2 separate regions of the Homo sapiens genome follow, and region 1 is linked to region 2. A link means that fine-mapping ties the variant in region 2 to the expression of a gene that starts in the linked region. Tissue or cell type: whole blood. Region 2 holds a variant in brackets; the other region holds the start of a gene. All regions are shown on one strand. Distances are between the middles of the regions.

The links. PIP is the estimated chance that this variant, and not a neighbour inherited with it, causes the effect.
Region 1: it holds the start of NUP214, and the variant in region 2 is fine-mapped to the expression of NUP214 in whole blood (INTERVAL, PIP above 0.99).

What each region holds. Positions count from the first base shown.
Region 1 is chr9:131,122,056-131,131,189 of GRCh38, reverse strand. It overlaps NUP214 (nucleoporin 214), which reads right to left and starts at 5,604. Exons shown (of 36, transcript NM_005085.4): 1 at 5,441-5,604; 2 at 3,471-3,666; 3 at 2,707-2,858; 4 at 1,713-1,911; 5 at 354-424. The coding sequence starts at 5,485. AIF1L (allograft inflammatory factor 1 like) reads right to left here. Exons shown (of 6, transcript NM_031426.4): 6 at 8,046-9,134. It also overlaps the pseudogene RNU6-881P. RefSeq lists an enhancer at 5,406-5,705.
Region 2 is chr9:131,176,266-131,186,596 of GRCh38, reverse strand. NUP214 (nucleoporin 214) reads right to left here. Exons shown (of 36, transcript NM_005085.4): 24 at 8,187-8,286. Among named protein-coding and RNA genes, the nearest start is that of NUP214, 56 kb to the right of the region's middle. The variant C/T (reference allele first, on the strand shown) is at 4,788.

The DNA of each region.
Region 1 (9,134 bases), 55 kb after region 2:
ACTCTTTTCCCTTGAGCTGTTTTTATGGAATGGACTGAAAAAGGTGGGGAACAGCGCATAGCGTATGATCACATTTTACATAAAAACAACAACAAAAAAAAAGCAGCTACCCATAGACTATTTGTATAACATCCAGAAAAGTATGGAAGGCTATCTACTCAACACAACATAGTGGGTGCCTCTGGAAGAAGGACTATGGGAAAGGGAAGAGTTCCACTCTTCATTCACTGATGGATTTGTTACAATGAGTATAAATTACTTTTTAATAGGAAAAACAAGAAAGATACTCCCAAACCACCCCCAAAAAAGTGGGCAACTTAAGAAAAATTCTGAAGTTCAAGATAAGAACTTACAGGAAGATACTGGACCACAGTTCCATTCTGTTTTCCCACTGCCAGCTGCTTTCCTTTGGGGCTCCAGCACACTGAGCAAAGACAGTATTACCAAATGAAAACAAGAAAATGGAGCAAACCAATAAGATCTATCACACACAGCTAATTATCAATTCTCATTCCTCTGTCAGTCCATGGAAGATTGTAGGATCATCTCTATCAGGCAAAGTGGAAAAAAGTAAAATCATTTTAACGATATAAGCCAATTGATTTATCACTGGGCTATTGAATTGAAAGCTAAAAATGCTTTTTCAATAGATTACTGCCCAGAAAGCTGCAAAATACAGAAAACTCTGTAGTCTTTACATAAGACAAGGAGAACAGAGAAGGTTTCCAAATACCAAGAAATCACTGGCCGGGCACAGTGGCTCATGCCTGTAATCCCAGCACTTTGGGAGGATGAGACGGACGGATCACTTGAGGTCAGAAGTTCAAGACCAGCCTGGCCAACATGGTGAAACCCCGTCTCTACTAAAATATACAAAAATTAGCTGGGCATGGTGGCAGGCACCTGTAATCCCAACTACTCTGGAGTCTGAGGCAAGAGAATTGCTTGAACCCAGCAGGTGGAGGTTGCAGTGAGCTGAGATCGCGCCACTGCACTCCAGCCTGGGCGACAGAGCAAGACTCTGTCTCAAAAAAAAAACAAAAAAAAAAAAACAAAACCAGAAATCATTCTCCTGCTCCCATTTAATATTTAAAATGCTTTTCCGCCCAAAGGTACAAATGACTTTCAGAGTACCACCGTTACAGATCCAGAAACAATTATTCCCAAAAAACACTTCTAAACCAGCTGTACCAAAATATTTCTCCAGAAATCCCAAGTACATTCAGGTTAAATTATGTATGCTGTTTGGCTTCAAGGACATTAACTATGGGTATAAAGAATACTCTCAGCCGGGCACAGTGCCTCACACCTGTAATCCTAGCATATGCGGGGTGGAGGAGGGCAGATCACTTGAGGTCAGGAGTTCAAGACCAGCCTGGCCAACATGGTGAAACCTTGTCTCTACAAAAAATACAAAAATTAGCTGGGCATGGTGGCGCATGTCTATAATCCCAGCTATTTGGGTGGCCGAGGCACGAGAATTGCTTGAACCCAGGAGGTGGAGGTTGCAGTGGCTGAGATGATGCCACTGTACTCCAGCCTGGGCGACACAGTGAGACTGTCTCAAAAAAGAATACCTTCCATCCTTAACCTCCCTCGTCATGAAAAAAAAAACCAAAACACAAAAAGCTATCCACTTTCACTTCTAGAAATCAATTCTTAAGTAGATGACCATGATTGTATGCTACAGTGTGAAAGCCTTTATTACTCACCAGAGGTTACTGCTACCGTGGAAGGAAGAGTTGCACATACTTTCACTGTTTCCGTGACTTGCAGGACAGCAATACTACCATCAGCCAGACAAACTGCCACCATGGAGGGGACAGTGGGGTTCCACTTCATATCAATCACCATGCCTCCTGCATCTTTCAAAAGCTTATGATAGGCAAATGGGCGTTTTTGCTGTTTAGCCTTTTAAAACAAATATGCAAAAGTGAAATAAGTTAACAAATAGTAAATGCAGAAACATTTAATATTCAATGGAAATTACTGAATACACAAGGTATCTCAAATCAGTTTATTTTTCTCCATAACCATAAAAAAAGATTGTTTTATGCATCAATCTATTTGCTATAGACAATTTCAACACAACTTTGAAAATGGCAATCAATTATTCTAACATGCTTAGGGGGACTCTCAGAAGGGGAATGCACAATTGCAAAATAACCAATAAATAGCAGACAATAGATTAAAATCTTGGCTCTGCTTCTTAATAATGTTGGGACCTTGGACAGTTACTTAAACTCTGAGCCTGTTTCTCTACCTATAAAATGAAGATAATAGTACCTACTACATAAGGCTGTGGTAGGCATGAACGAGGGACAAGGCATATAAAGCACTTAGTACAGAGTCTAACACACACAGTCAGTATAAACACTCACTATTATTATCATTCTTAAACTGCTTGGAATGGAAGAACATCCAAAATGTAGGAACTTTTGACATTATGTATTCATCTATGACTTTGGGCAAGTCACCTAAGCCTCCTGATAACAACTTAGGGCAGATGGCGTTATGAAAGAATTTCTTGAAGTCCCTTCTGTCTCAAAGATCTATGATTCTATAATTAAGGATTTTTTTTTAACCCATATTTTAATCTAGAGAGAAACTTCAAGGGTTAACCTATGAAGCTTCCAAGTTGTAATTCAATACAAGGAAATCTGCTTAGGGTTCTCATGTTGACATCACAGTATAACAGTAGCTTACCTCATTTGAGAATGTGCGAACATCAAAAAAAGCAATAATGGAACCATATTCACTGGACATCATGCACGCAGAGAGTGTGAGGTTATCACAGCTCAAGGCCAGGTGATGGATTGGGAATTTCATAGGAACTAGCAAGCCTTGGACTTTATCAACTATGAAAACAAAAAAATACAAAGCAGAAAACGGTATGTTCTAAGCATAAAGCCACAACCTCTATCCAGTTCGATGTGAAAAAATTTTTGCATCTACATAAACACACATACACCCCAATACCTAGTTATACAGATAAATCTTAACTTTCTTAAAGATATATAATGATGGATTAAGTATCCCTGGAATTCTTCCTCATACAATCTGGGGAAACTAACTGTGGCTGCTGCCCTTGTTGAAAATATTTTTGCAACAATGCTCTAAATAGTACACCTTGCCAATAGTTTGGATCATACTGTTGTGCCAACTGAAAACCCATGCCAATAAAACCCTTCACCCAGAGAGCCAGAGCCCAAGTTCAACTGAGCAAAAATAAAAGCATGGCATAATGGTTAAGTTCTTCCCTGTTGAGCTGAGAGGAACAACTCATGTAAGGAGAAATACAAAGGACCAAGGAGAAAACCTAGAAAGGCTTCCATTAATCTTCTTGGGAGTCAACCTTCAAACTGACAGCAGTGTTCATTTTAGTATTAGAATGACTTCTTGGGAAGGAAACACAAGAGCATGCCACCATACTCCTCTCTCTACTTTGCAACATAAACCAGGGAACTTACCTATTTTGTTGGGATCATCTCCGGGTTTATTTTGAATAAGAAGATTTTTAGTAGGAAAAATCTGCAAGCCACTGGCTCCACCAGCGAAGACCAGACCATATTTGTTGGACACAGCAAGCAGACTCGAGCGTTCCTTGGGCAATTCCTCAGGGGAGTCAAAGATTCTCACCTTCTTTAGCGCTCTAAACTGAAAATCCTGTTGTGAAGAATCAAAACGAGATCAATTCAATAAAGAAAGAAATTAAAACATGTTATATTCAGTAGACCCAATTTCAGTACAACAAAAATATGTATTACTGAGACCAAGGTCTGTCTCAATTGTCTTTTTTTCTTTTTTGAGATGGAGTCTCGCTCTGTCGTCCAGGCTGGAGTGCAGTGCAGCGATCTTGGCTCACTGCAACCTCTGCCTCCCAGGTTCAAGCGATTCTCCTGCTTCAGACTCCCAAGTAGCTGGGATTACAGGCACCCGCCACCATGGCCATCTAATTTTTGTATTTTTAGTAGACACAGGGTTTCATTATGTTGGCCAGGCTAGTCTCGAACTCCGGACCTCAAGTGATCCATCCACCTCAGCCTCCCAAAGTGCAAGCTCACAGGCATGAGCCACCACACTCGGCCCTCATTTTTTTCTGATATGGAACACTTCATGAATTTGTCTGTCATCCATGTAAAGGGGCCATAATAGTCTTCTCTGCATGATCCCAATTTTATATGTGCTGCCAAAGGGAGTGCGAGATTACCATCTTCTAAGTCTGTGGTTCTATTAATAAAACCTTTTTTTCTTCTACCCCAGCATATCTGAGGAATATGACACAACCCCATTAGGTGGCTCACCACAGGTGGTGATTCTCAAAAAATAATCACTATTCTAGGACAGCACGGTAGCTCACGCCTATAATCCCAGCACTTTGGGAGCCAGAGGAGGGCGGATCACGTTAGGTCAGGAGTTCGAGACCAGCCTGGCCAACATCGTGAAACCCAGTCTCTACCAAATGATATAAAAAATTAGTGGGGCGTGGTGGCAGGCGCCTGTAATACCAGCTACTAGGGAGGTTGAAGCAGGAGAATCGCTTGAGCCGGGGAGGTGGAGGTTGCAGGGAGCCGAGATCATGCCACTGCACTCCAGCTTGGGTGACAGAGCAAGACTCTGTCTCAAAAAAAAAAAAAAATCACTATTCTAAACATGGTATTACTATGCCCTAAATGCATTTTAGTGATTTATTGTTCACACAGATGCCTAAAATCTTCCTGCAACTTACTTCTTTTCACTATTTAAAACAGATGTAGCCCGTCTGTTGTACCCTCATTCTGTCAGAACCCATATAAGAACTATTAAACACACCATCCTGAAGTTATCCCTGGGGGACTCCCACGTTGCTATCACTGGGACCACTTGGCCCTCCCTTTAGGTTCCTGACTTTAGGCTGATATACCGAGGTCAAAATAGTCTTCCTAGTCCAATCAACTAAAGGTTCTGCAGGATGGATGACCTTCCCTGACTCTACGTTAGGCAAGCCCGTATCACCTTACAGAAGTACTGGGAGAGCAAAGGTCTTAAATGATGCTGGCTTTCAGCCCCGCGTCAAATGTGACTTTAGGGAAATTACTTTCCGAGCCTCAACTTACTCCTCTACGTTAACGACTACTTCGTAGGGCTGCCGCGATGACTACCACAGTGCCTGGCACACAGTCAACACTCAATAAACAGCAGTTATTGCCACTATTGTGACCGCCCCAGGAAGTAGCTAGGGTAACTCAACAGCCGTGCACGAGACCAGGATGGGACTGGGAAACTGCATTCGGTGGGGCTATCACGCCAGCGGCGCGGCAGACGCGCTGGTGAGAGCTGTGAACGCGGTAAACTGTTCAAGCAGGAGGCGGGACAGCCAGCACCGCGCTTCGCCTTTCAGCTGGGCTCCAAGGCAACGCCAGGACTAAAGAAGGGAGGGAGGCCCCGGTTAGTCTCTGACCTTCATCTCCCGCTCGGGAATCATGGCATCCATCTCGTCTCCCATCGCGCCGCCCTCAGTGTGTCGAAGCAGCCAACGCTGCCTCCCACGGCCTTGCCCACGGAACCCAGGCCGCTCGACAGCAAACTTCCTCCCCTCAGCGCCAGCGGCGCGCAGTTGACCTCGCATTTCCGGCGCGCTTTGGTGACGTCAAGCTTGGTCAGAGGAAGCCGCGGAACCTAGCGAAGCCGCGCGTTCTTCCGGCCGCCGCTCCCCATTGGCCAGCTCGGGCTGAGTAGTGGCGTGGCCGTGAGGTCCCTGCGCCTGCGCCCTGGATGGTCCTGGTGCCGCTCCCGCCTTCGCAGCCAGCGCGGGCTTACCTAGTGTTAAGTCTCTCTTCTTGGGTGGCCCACGCCTAAGCGACCTATGCTTCTTGTTCTTCTGAAATCTTACAGTTCCCCTTAGATGTAGGTTGGCTATTGGTAGCTTCCGATTCAGATAAGTTTGGAACTTGACAGATGTTTTCGGGGGGCTGCTTTAGAGAGAGGCTTTGGACTATGCAAGGGGAGGAAGGGAGGTTCAGAAAAACGGGGTCGGGGGGTCGGCAGGGACGACTCTTAAAGTGTGGAAGGTGGAAGGCTGGGAGGGGAGATTAAAGGGCACCGAAGACCAGCTTTGTTTGCTCCTATCAAGGTGATCCTTTCCAGAGCAAGAGCCATATCCATGTCTAGTCGCACGAGTTTGTGCCAAGTCCTTTGCAAAAACCTTCAGATGTGGGATCTCATGTAATCTTGAAGACATCTTAGTCGTCCTAGGGGTTATTTATTTAATTGATGAGACGCGGGTGGCTCATGCCTATAATCCCAGCACTTGGGAGGCGGAGACAGGAGGATTGCTTGAGACCAGGAGTTTGAGACCAGCCTCGGCAACATGGCGAGACCCCGTCTCTATAAAAAACAAAACAAAACCACAAAAATTAGCCAGCAGTGATGGCATGCGTATGTAGTCTCAGCTACTCGGGAGGCTGAGGTGGGAGAATTGCCTGAGCCCAGGAGGTTGAGGCTACAGGGAGCTGTGATTGCACCATTGCACTCCAGCCTGGGTGACAGAGCCAGGCCCTGTCTCAAAAAGTAAATAAAAGGCCGGGCGCGGTGGCTCACGCCTGTAATCCCAGCACTTTGCGAGGCCGAGGCGGGCGGATCACGAGGTCAGGAGATGGAGACCATCCTGGCTAACACGGTGAAACCCCGACTCTACTAAAAATACAAAAAATTAGCCGGGCGCGGTGGCGGGCACCTGTAGTCCCAGCTACTCGGGAGGCTGAGGCAGGAGAATGGCGTGAACCCGGGAGGCGGAGGTTGCAGTGAGCAGAGACAGCGCCACTGCAGTCTGGCCTGGGCGAAAGAGCGAGACTCCGTCTCAAAAAAAAAAAAAAAAAAAAAGTAAATAAAAATAGGCTGGGAGCAGTGGCTCACGCCTGTAACCACAGTACTTTGGGAGGCCGAGGTGGGTGGAACACCTGAGGTCAGGAGCTCGAGACCAGCCTGGCCAACATGGTGAAACCCCGTCTCTGCTAAAAATACAACAATTAGCCGGGTGTGGTGGCGGACGCCTGTGTTCCCAGCTATACAGGAGGCTGAGGCAGGAGAATCGCATGAACACAAAAGGTGGAGGTTGCAGTGAGCTAAGATTGTGCCACTGCACTCCAGCCTGGGTGACAGAGTGAGACTCTGTCTCAGAAAAAAAAAAAAAAAAAAAAAAAAATATATATATATATATATATATACACACACACACACACATATATATATACACACACACACATATATATATATATACACACACACACATACACATACATAATAATAATTGATGAGGTAAGGGAGGCACAGAGAAGTTGAGAAAATTCTCCAATAGCCCTCAGTCAGAAAGTGGTGGTGACAGGATTAGAATTGAGATCGTCTGGATAAGGCTGACTGATGGTATTAAAGTCCTTCATAGAATACATTTCTGTAGTGAATTATAAATGCTCTAGGACAGAGGTTCTTTTTTTTTTTTGAGACGGAGTCTCACTCTGTCACTCATGCTGGAGTGCAGTGGCGCGATCTCGGCTCACTGCAAGCTCTGCCTCCCGGGTTCACAGCATTCTCCTGCCTCAGCTTCCCAAGTAGCTGGGACTACAGGCGGCCGCCACCACGCCCGGCTAATTTTTTGTATTTTTAGTAGAGACGGGGTTTCACCGTGTTAGCCAGGATGGTCTCCATCTCCTGACCTCGTGATCCGCCCACCTCAGCCTCCCAAAGTGCTGGGATTACAGGCGTGAGCCACCGCGCCCGGCCGACAGAGGTTCTTAACTTGGACCTCATGGGTTGGCTCCAGGGGGGTCGGATTGTGCCATTTACTGTTTGGCTTGCAGCACATTGCTTATTCAAGCCTACTTTTCAGTTGTGAAACAAGGATGACATAATAGAACCTGTCTCTTGCAGGGAGGTGGTTAGGATAAGTGAATTTCAGCTGTCTCAGACAAAAGGCACAGGACATGCTCATTTAATCTCTTACTATATTAGCTAGTTCGCAATTTGCTGAGCCCAGAACCAGCCCCAAAATACACCAATCAAGACGTTGGTAAGTTTGTCTGGTTTATTTGCAGGCTGTAGAGATGATATCCCAGTCCACGCACACTCCCATGCACACGCACACACATACTTCATCCACCTGAATTTGCCCGACAAACCCTCCTCTGAGTCATAGGGACAAAGCCATACTTGGCAGTCCTCACGTTACTGGTTACATTAGATTTGGTCTTTCAGAAAGAAGATGGTTGAAGTCCCAAGAAGCTGAGCCCTTAGCCAGAGAAGTAAGAGTCCTAGAACCAAGAGCCACAACCTGAAATAGATGCAGACTGCCCCCGCCCTCCTTCCAGGGACAACTCTTGAGACCCTCTCCTCCCAGGAGTTGAGTCTCAAGAAATGAAGGGACTGATGGGGTTTCCCAGGACACACGAGCCCCCACCCCCATTCAATGAGAAAACCCTCTCTTCTGCCATTTCCAGAAGCTGGGGCCACACCTGCTTGCTCTCCTCCCTTAAGGAGAATTCCTGCAGTCTTGTAGAACTGTGGAACTTACTGAAATAAGCCTGACTGGTTCTGCCTTCCTCTCTGAGTGAGGAACAGGGACACTGAATATGATGGGTAGTGAAGGAAGGCTTTATCTTCCTCAAAGGTCCCAGCCTGTCCCAGAGAGGAGAGGCAGTGAGGAGGGGTGAGGACATCTAATGATCTTGGGGAAAAAAAAAACAAAAAACAGGGCAGGGTGGGGGTAGAAGTAGGATTTTCCATTTACAGGGAGGAATGTTTTGCTGGGGTTTAAACTTCAACTAGGCCTGTGTGCATTTGAAGCAGATCCTTGAGCTCAAGATCAGCCAGTCATGGCCAAATAACCTCATTCCTGAACTGGTTGAAACCAGTGGGTTAACCCAACCTGGCCATTTCCTCATGCCTTACCTGTTTTCCTCCCTCAATCTGCTATCAGAGGTGACTAAGGAGCCGCAGGGAACCCACGTTGGCTCCAACCACCAAGACCTCCCAGTCCTGTCCACTTAAGGTGTTGCAAAGGCTCTGCCAAGACTCTCACCCAGTCTTGGGCCCATCTAGGCCCCCAGGACTGCAGGGAAGTCACCCCATACCTCCCCCTTCCTAACATTTATCTCATTGTC
Region 2 (10,331 bases):
TCTTGGCTCCTAGCGGCAATTTTTTCAATTTATCTGTTGTCAGCCCAGCGCTACTCTGACTGGTATATATAGCAGTAGTAGTTGTAGGACCTGGTTATTTTTCAGAACTCCCCTAGATTTAGGGAGGATTCATATTTTCCATCAAAAATGAACTTAGAAGATAAAAGATAGGCCTGTGCCTCACGGAAGAAAATTATCAAACAGCTTAACAAACCTTACAAGCATATTGAGATTCTCTGCTGGAATAACAAGGGGACCTTCCTAAACAGACTTTATTAGATTGAGAGAGAAGAAAAAGTGAACTTATGTTCAATGAAACAAAACCCGTTTCATGCTTCTACTGAAGCCAGAAGCAGCTATAAATATGCATCTCTCTGGAGAAACACATCTCTGTTCCCCTGAGATAGTTTACCAAGCAGGCAATACAGATACAGTGTTCCCCCGTCACCTCCGCTGAATCTGTACCAGAGGAAAAGAATGTGTGAGTGAGACTGCTGGGCCCTGAGCAGTACCTGGACAGACACAGCAGACTTGCTTAGAGAAGAGGTTGGAGCTCACAAGGATTACAAAGGAAAGGAAACTCTTTCATGCTTTCTCAAAGACAAACAGAAATCAGAAATAAAAATAAAAGCAGCAATTTATCCAAATTTTAGAAAATTTTTTACAGCCAGAATTCAATTGTGACATGATAGTAAATTATGCATGAATAAGACTGAGTGTAATTATTATTCTATTTATTTGTGATAATTCTATGTATCTCCTGAGTATCCTAAATCCCCAAATACACAAAATTAGGATTCACAGTACCTACACACCACGTGACACCCCTGCAAAGAAATGCTGTTCAGTGCAATCAGCCAGTAAACCAATTAACAAACCAGATCCAATAAATCTCTTATCAAGATCCAAGACAGCACACAGAAAAAAACAGTATACTCTCAAACAAATATGTTCAAACGTTTTTGCATGAGCATGAACCAAAACAATGGAAATCAATAGCTAGAAATGATCAAGAGATAGAAAAGCCAAATTCAGAAGTATCCATATCTTAGGTGACTTTATTCCACTTTTTAGCAATATGGAGTTGAAAAATATCAGAAATTCATCTTGATATTTGTTCTAAGAAGAAAATGGTGCTATAACAGAGCCCCAAAGAGACATCTCTTTACTGAGTGAGTCTACAAATGACACTGACATTGCCAGCAACACTAAAGTTCCTGCTTCAGAAATGAGCGACAGAGGCACAGATCACTAAGAGTCTGGAAACTCGGGTTCTTGGAGAAAAATAAAACACAGAAGAGTCATTTTTTTCTGTTTTTGGCCACACATTACCAGCACTACATGCCAACAGAGGCAGACAAATGCACACATGTTCCATGGATGTGTACTCTACACACAATTATAAAATTGGGTTGTGAAGCATTAAAATGTCACCTAGGCCCTTTGCTATTGATCCCTCCAACTTTAATGAACTTCAACAAGGTAAATACTCATCCCATTGTTGTAAAAAGCCTCAACTTCTTGTAACTTATTTCAGGATTTTAAAAAGCATAAAAAACAAGAGACCTGGTTATGTTTTATTTTGGTAAATCTTAATCACTATCACATGTATCTTTTCATACATACTCATATATGAGAGAGTGGAACTTATCAAGAGTAACTGAAGAAACAAAGAAATCAACAGGGAAAAAGAATGAAAATGATAGAAGATACTGAAAACAAACACTCTATATTCAATTCTTGGGCGTTTTTGACATCTGTCGATGGAAATATAACTGCCAACTATTTTCTCCATTGGTAAATTTAATGTCTTCAAAGACACATTCTTTAAAATAGTATCCAAAAGTCTGTTAAAGCAAATTGTATTTCCTGCATGAATGTTTAGATGCTAAGTAACTTAAATAATTAAGACGGAATTGCATTAGAGCTTTGAAAAAATCCACATTAAATATGAAAAAATAGGCCAGGCACGGTGTCTCACGCCTGTAATCCCAGCACTTTGGGAGGCCGAGGTGGGTGTATCACTTGAGGTCAGGAGTTCGAGACCAGCCTGGCCAACATGGTGAAACTCCGTCTCTACTAAAAATACAAAAAAATTAGCCAGGTGTGGTGGCAGGTGCCTGTAGTCCCAGCTACTTGGGAGGCTGAAGCATGAGAATCGCTTGAACCCGGGAGACAGAGGTTGCAGTGAGCCAAGATTGTGCCACTGCACTCCAGCCTGAGTGACAGAGCGAGACTCCATCTCAAAAAAAAAAAAAAAAGAGAGAGGCCGGCTGCAGTGTCTCACGCGTGTAGTCCCAGCATTTGGGAGGCCAAGGTGGGTGGATCATCTGAGGTCAGGAATTTGAAATCAGCCGGGCCAACATGGTTAAACCCCGTCTCTACTAAAAATACAAAAATTAGCCGGCTGTGCTGGTGCACACCTGTAATCCCAGCTACTCAGGAGGCTGAGGCAGGAGAATCGCTTGAACCTGAGAGGCGGAGGTTGGAATGAGCTGAGATTGCGCCACTGCACTCCTGCCTGGGTGACAAAGCGAGACTCCATCTCAAAAAAAAAAAAAAAAAAAAAAGAAAAAGAAAAAAGAAAAAGAAAAGAAAAAATACGAATAGTGTAAGAATTTTTAATGACATGGAAAATGTAAACGATTACATTTCATGATTAAGCTGAAAAGGTTACAAATTTACAAAGCAGCATGCATCCAAATTTTTCTCTAACAAGAAACATTTTCATAAAATAAGGATGAAAAAATGTGTAAATAACAATCATACATTTGTGGTGGGAATAAAGGTGATTTTAAGTTTGTTCTTTTTAACTATCTTTTTTATATCTACAACAAACATTTGTAATTAGAAAAACAAAAGGATTAAAGTTCCTTTTAAGTTTCTGGTCATTACTAGAGTTATTATTTTTAAAGTAGAGGAACATCTTTAAATCAGTGAAAGAAAAAAACTGCCAATCTAGAATTCTTTACCCTGTGAAAATATCTTTCAAAATCAAAGGTGAAATAAAGACTTCTGCAGACATACAAAAGCTAAAAGAATTCAGATATGAACCTCAAGAAACATTAAAGGAAGTCCTTTGAGCAGAAGAAAAATTATACCAGATGGCAAGCTGGGACCAGACACAGGAATGAAGAACCCTGGAAATGGTAACTATATGTATAAACATGTAAACTTTTTTCTTCTTATTTAAATGTATTTAAAAGATAGTCAGCCGGGCGCGGTGGCTCAAGCCTGTAATCCCAGCACTTTGGGAGGCCGAGGCAGGCGGATCACCTGAGGTCAGGAGTTCGAGACCAGCCTGGCCAACATGGCGAAACCCCGTCTCTACCAAAAATATAAAAATTAGCCAGGTGTGATGGTGGGCACCTGTAATCCCAGCTACTAGGGAGGCTGAGGCAGGAAAATCACTTGAACCTGGGAGGCAGAGGTTGCAGTGAGCTGAAATCGCACCACTGCACTCCAGCCTTGGCGACAGAAGAAGAATCCATCTGGGGGGTAGTGGGGAGGAAAGATAGTCAACTGTTTATAACAATGTATCATGAGGTTTACAATACAGTGGAAGTAAAATGCACAATAGCATAAAGGTGGTGAAGGGAGAAAATAGAATACTGCTGTTAGATTCTTACACTATTCTTTAGTAATATAGTATCACTTGAAGACAGTCTGTGATAAGTTGAAGATGTATACTATAAACCCTAATGTAAGCACTTAAATAACACCAAGTTATAGCCAATAAGTCAACAAAAAAGTTAAAATAGAGTCATAGAGACATTTAACCCAAAAAAAGGCAGAAAAACAAAAACTGAACAACAAACAGATGGGATAAATAGAAACAAATAGCTATATAACAGATTTAAACCAAAACATGTCAATAATTACACTTAAGGTAAACGATCTAATCACCCCAATTAAAAGTCACAGATGGTCAAGATTAAAAAAAAGCAAGCTAAGGCCCACTATATACTGTCTACAACTGTGGTCCCCAACCTTTTTGGCACCAGGGACTGGTTTTGTGAAAGACAATTTTTTCCACAGACGGACAGCGGAGGGGGATGGTTTCAGGATGAAACTGTTTCACCTCAGATCATCAGGCTATAATTTTATATTTTATTCAGTTAGATTATCATAAGGAGCATGCAACCTAGATCCTTTGCATGTGCAATTCACAATAGGGTTCATGCTCCTATGAGAATCCAAAGCTGCCGCTGATCTGACAGGAGGTGGAGCTCAGGTGGTAATGCTCACTTGCCTGCCGCTCACCTGCTGTGTGGCCCAGTTCCTAAGAGGCCACAGACCGGTACTGGTCTGCAGCCCAGGGCTGGGGACCCCTAATCTATAAGAAATCCATTTTATTTTTTTAAATTATTTTTGTTTATTGTGGTAAAATACACTTAACAAAATCTGCCATCTTAAAAGTAACCATTTTTAAGTGCACATGTAGTTCAGTGATACTAAGTACATTCACATTGCTGTGCTACAAGAAACCCATTTTAAATATAAAGACAAAATAAGTTGAAATAAAAGGATGGAAAAGATATGTTGTGGTGCTGGGACAACTGGATATCCACATTCAAAACAATGAAGTTGGATCTCTACTTCACACCATTTACAAAAATTAACTCCAAATGGATCAGAGACCTAGATATAAGAGCTAAAACCACATAACTCTTCAAAGAAAACATCGGTGTAAATCTTTATGACCTTGGATTAGGCAATGGTTTCTTACATGTGACACCTAAAGCACAAGCAACAAAAGAAAAAATAGATAAACTGGACTAAATTTT[C/T]GTGTCAAAGGACACAACAAGAAAGTGAAAAACAACTCAAAGAATGGGAGAAAATATTTGCAAATCATATGCTTGATGAGAGACTTGAATACAGATTATATAAAGAAACTTAGAGCTCAAAAATAAAAAGACAACCTAATTTTAAAATGGAGCAAAGGAACTAAATAGATATTTCTCCAAAGATACAACTGGCCAATAAGCACGTGAAAAGATGCTCAATATCACCAGCCATTAGGGAAATGCAAATCAAAACCACTGATAGTGTGAGATACCATTTTATACCACTAGGATGACTATAACCAAAAAGATAGTCAATAATGAGTGTTGGTGAGGATGTGGAGAAGCTGGAACCCCCATACATTGCTGTTGGGAATGAAAAATGGTGCAGCACCTCTGTAAACCAGTTTGAGCTATGTAATCCAGCGATTCCACTCCTACATACATACCCAAAAGAACTGAAAGCAGGGACTCAAACAGACACTGTCCACCAACAGTCTTTCCTGACCTACTCCCCCAGCATTCTTCCTCTTGTTCCCTCTACTCTCGTCACCAGAGGTCCCCCCTGACTCGCTCTTCAACTTGTAGACACGCTCCTGCTACAGGCCCTGTGCTTGGAGCTTTCTTCCGAGATATTAATGAGACCTGCTGTGTGGCCTTTCTCTCTTCATTCAAAGGTCACCTTCCTGAGAAGGCCTTCCCTGGCCACCCTATTTAAAATTATAACCCATGTTCAGACAATACTCTCTAACCTTTCCCCCGCTTTAATTTTCTCCATCACACCATATCACCATCTAATATATTACATATTTTACTTATTTATTTTGATTATTGTTTGTCTCTCCAAACAATCAGTCTGTTAGTTTTTTTGGTCTATTTTGTTAACAACAAAACAGGTAGTTTATCTCCAGCTCCTAAGAATACTGTGTGGCATACAACAAATGCTCATTAAGTATTTGTTGAAAGAATGAATAAATGAATGAATGCACACCAAAATAAGTGTTTGTGTAATTGGCAGTTTCCCGGCTGTCTTCTTGTTTGGTTTGTCTTATTCAACTACCCTATCTCTAGTACCCAGGGCAGTATCATGCTCACAGCAGACGCTGTGTAAGAATCTGCTGAATCAAGCGATGGAGCACTGCAAAGGAATTTGAATAGCTGTGGGTTGGCGCCAGATAAACACTCTTCCAACGAACTGAATGGATGAGGCCAATGAACATAAAGTACACCAATGGCAGAAATATGTAAGCTCATCCTATGATGAATCTTCTGTAGATACCACTGAGAAAAAGCTAACTGCAAAATTAAATACTTAAAATACACTTAGGAAACTACTGTTTAAAAGAATCTGTTCCACGAGAGCTGGCTGAAAATAATTTTAAAAATAAAACATAAAAGAATCTGAAAGCAAGTCATTTTACAATGAACATATTCTCTCGATCTTTCCTGGGGAGGGGTGGCAGTAAACACCAATTTTCACTTTTCAATTTATGTTTGGAGTAGAGTTTACCTATTATTCAATAAATGATTATTGAAAGGAATGCTTCTACATTTCAGGCACCATGCTGGGCATACACATGAAATAATTATACCAGAGTCTAATTCTGTGGAGAATGGAACAGAAAGTTTCTTCAAGATTTCTTAAGTTGTCTGAGATTTTTTGTCAGAAAGAGTAGACTCAAAATTACTCCTTGAACAAACCCTTCATCAAAGATCAGCTCAGATGAACCATTTAGGGAAATGAAGCTTGAGAAAAGGAGAAGTGGAATCTCCAAAAGGTGCTTCTCATACATGGTTAGCACCTAATATATCTCAGAAACACTAGACAATACTTCCTGTACCATATGCTGAGTTTTCCCATCTTATGTAACATTCTGCCTTGCCTTCCCTATGCTGGGAATCTGGCTACAATTCCCAAACTCTAATGCATAGTTCTTTCCCTTGAAAAGCTTGCAACAACCACAAATACCATCTTGGTCTAAACAGCATACCAAGGCTCCGAGGTCACTACAAAATAGTAATAGAGAAGGCTTGTTTTTTGGCTGTTAGTATGGCCCTGAGATAACTAAAAATTCCTCAAACAAGCAGTGTTGATAAACAGAACAACATGGAAAAAAAGAGGCCAGCGGACCAGTGAGGCAGGGCCACTTGAGAGAGGGAAAACAGAACCGTGGGCAGATCTGCTCTGTGCAATGGCAGAGGGTGGGCACGCTGTGGAGAACCACAAGGTCTATGGCTGCCCTTCTTGCTGCTAGACTAATCATGGGTACCAGACACTAACTCCCTGAAATCTGATACTAGTCCTCAAGATCCCCATGTTCCAAGTGAGGAAATGTCCCTCAACTCTTCCCTTTGCCACAGGGGATGGTGGTTGGTCTAAAGGGATCACAGTCACAAAATATGCAGGGCAAAGCAGGGCACAGGCATGTTCTGCGAACCTGCCCAGGGCAGCGGGAGGGAGTCAGCACCCTGAATTCCGAACACAGATGAGGACTAAAGACAAATGAGCTAGGCTGGGCACAGTGGCTCCTGCCTATAATCACAGCACTTTGTGAGGATGAGGTGAGAGGATCACTTGAGCCCAGAAATTTGAGACCAGCCTGGGGTGACATGGCAAAAACTCCATCTCTACAAAAAATTAAAAAATTAGCTGGGTGTGGTGTCATGTGCCTGTAGTCCCAGCAGCTACTTGGGAGGCAGATATGGGAGCATGGCTTGGGCCCAGAAGGTTAAGGCTACAGTGTGCCATGATCGTACTGCACTCTGCACTCCAGTCTGGGCAAGAGTGAGACCTTGTCTAAGAAAAAACAAAAAACAAAAAACAACAACAACAACAACAACAAAACCACCACCACCACCAAAAAAACAAGTGAGCTCCACCAGCAACAATCCAGCCCTCAAACATGGCATGGCAGAGAAGCTAAAGTCTCCAAACAGAGGTGCTGTCTTTTATACAAAAGCAAAAGAAATGGGAAGAACAGAAATGCCTGGAGAAGGGAAGTGAGGGAGGAGAGTGTCACCCTTGAGATTACAGTTTCCAGAATCAAGTCTGCATGAGACCCAAAGCATCAACTCTGGAACCCCTAGGGCATTAAAAAAAAAAAAAAAATCAACCTGCACACCTAATGTGTACCACACAGAGACTTACACATGGCAAACAGAAACTGAGCATACAGCATCAAGACAAACTTTAAAAGTTTGTGAGGCAACTGTCACCGGCCAGTTAAAAAGGACAGTCTCCTGAAAATGCATTGTGTAGGCAGGCTTAGCCGCCACCCCCCTTATAACCTAAGGCGGTGCAGGAAAACCAGACTGTGACAGTGGCACTGCTGCTCCCTGCAGGCAGTCCACCGCTACTACAGAAGCAGCCAGGGGCTGAAACACACTGCAGTCAGAACATACCCCATGGCTGTAGAAGGGGTTGCAGGGTTATTCTTCAATTCCTGCACATTTACCACTTGAGGGACATTCTTCAACGTTGATTCAGTCAAAGTGTTTACAGCTAATTTAAACAGAGAAGAGAGAACACCATATTAATTCCAGCAAAGGATAAAAAGTTCTAGCCACATATAAATGAAAAACCAAGACATGAGCCCAAGCAGATTAGAGCCTTATCATGTGAAGGAAATCTACTCTAGGTAGTTCTTGCAGCATTGTGTTCAAAGGAACACCTGGCCTACTCCATTAACACAGGTGATGGAACAAGGCTTCCTGTAACTGAATCGAATGTACTAGAGTAGGGGAAAAGAATTCTCTGGCCAGCTTTTCTACACAGAGCTGAGACACCTGCCACACTGCTGGTCTGTCCTGGAAAAGGGCAGCTTGAGCTAGAGGATTAACAGCATCTAGACTCAGGATTTCTGCCACTCATTCACTGTCTTTCTTTAACATGGGCTTATTATGTGCCAGGCTCTGTGTTAGGGGCTGCGAATACAAAATGTATCTATAGTTTCTTCTCTAAAGAAACTCATGGCCTAGTGAGACAGAAAGGCATAATGAATAAAATGTGGAAAATGGAGCTTGGACAATAATGGGAGAAGAGACTAAGAGGCATATATCTGACACCTCCTCATCAGCTTTCGTCTTATAATTGTAAATTGTATCCCAAAAGACTTAATGACATTCTATAATTAGCAATTAAGGAAGCCTGAGCAAAGCTTGTGGCTCATTACTAACTGCATCACTGGCCAAGGTGAAAGTGGTTATCACAAGCAGAATGACAGACCTGTAGTTAATTCTCTTTTATTCCCTCTTTCAAAGAAGTGACCAGAACATCTTGCCCACGACTGCACATCTTTCATATTTCATATTCAAAGGTGCCTATACCTTAGAAATTTTTGCATCCAACATGATAATACAGATCACACCACCTTCTGCTGAGTGGAACAATCCTCAATCCTAATAGATTTTAACGTTTTACAGATCATTGACTTGATCAACTTGATTTCAGGCCTGTTCAGCACAATGGCAAGATTCTACCTGGTCCAAGTAATATTTAAAGAGATCAAAGAATTCTATTTTTAGAAAGCCCAAAGGTACCTCAAAAGTTATCTTTGTTTTGTTCTTCAATATATATGTTAGATGTCTTAATAAAGGTTTTAATATTTGAATTTTTCTTTACAATCTTTTGACTTATCACTGTTTAATGTTAGTTCTTTTTTCCTAAATCAAACTATTATGTCTTTTTAGTCTTTAAAAAAAACTCTAAATTGATAAGTGTTGTAAGCAGTGATACATCTAAAAAATAATTTTACTCAGCTAAAATGAAAATATTTGGCTTATATCTGTTTCTTGACCCTGGCACTACTGACATTTTGGGGCTAGATAACCCTTTGTTGTGGGGGTGTCTTATGCATTTTAAAGATTTTTTTTTTGCAGCATTCCTGGCCTCTACCCACTAAATGCCAGCAACACTGCCAACTGTTTCAGGGGTGGAGGACAGGGAAGTGGGGGCAGCCTCTAGTTGAGAACTACTAGCTTATAAAACTGATAACTAGTGATAACTGAAGTCCTTGAGACCAACTACGCAGACTGTAAAATCCTAATGTACAATGTACATTAACGTAGAAAGTAGTAGAAAGTTTGGGATAATGACAAGCCACTGACGAAATGTTAAGTGCTAACTGACTTATTAGCGCTTCCTTCTGTAAAAGTTAAATTTTACAATGTTAAAAAAAAAGCTTTGGTCAGGAGCAGTGGCTCATGCCTATAATCCCAGCACTTTGGGAGGTAGAGGCGGGTGGATCACTTGAGCCCAGGAGTTTGAGACCAGCTTGGATAACATGGTGAAATCCTGTCTCTACAAAAATTTTTTAAATATTTGCCTGGTGTAGTGGTGCATGCCTGTAGTCCTAGCTATCCAGGAGGCTGAGGTGGGAAGGTCACCTGGGTTCGGGAGATCACGGAGGCTGCAGCGAGCCGTGATCGCACCAGTGTCCTTCAGCCTAGGCAACACAGTGAGACCCTGTCTCAAAAGAAAAAAAAAAAAAGCTTCATGCAAGATATAGTTGGAGAAGAAAAAATGCTCAACTGAAAAAGAGCAGAGGG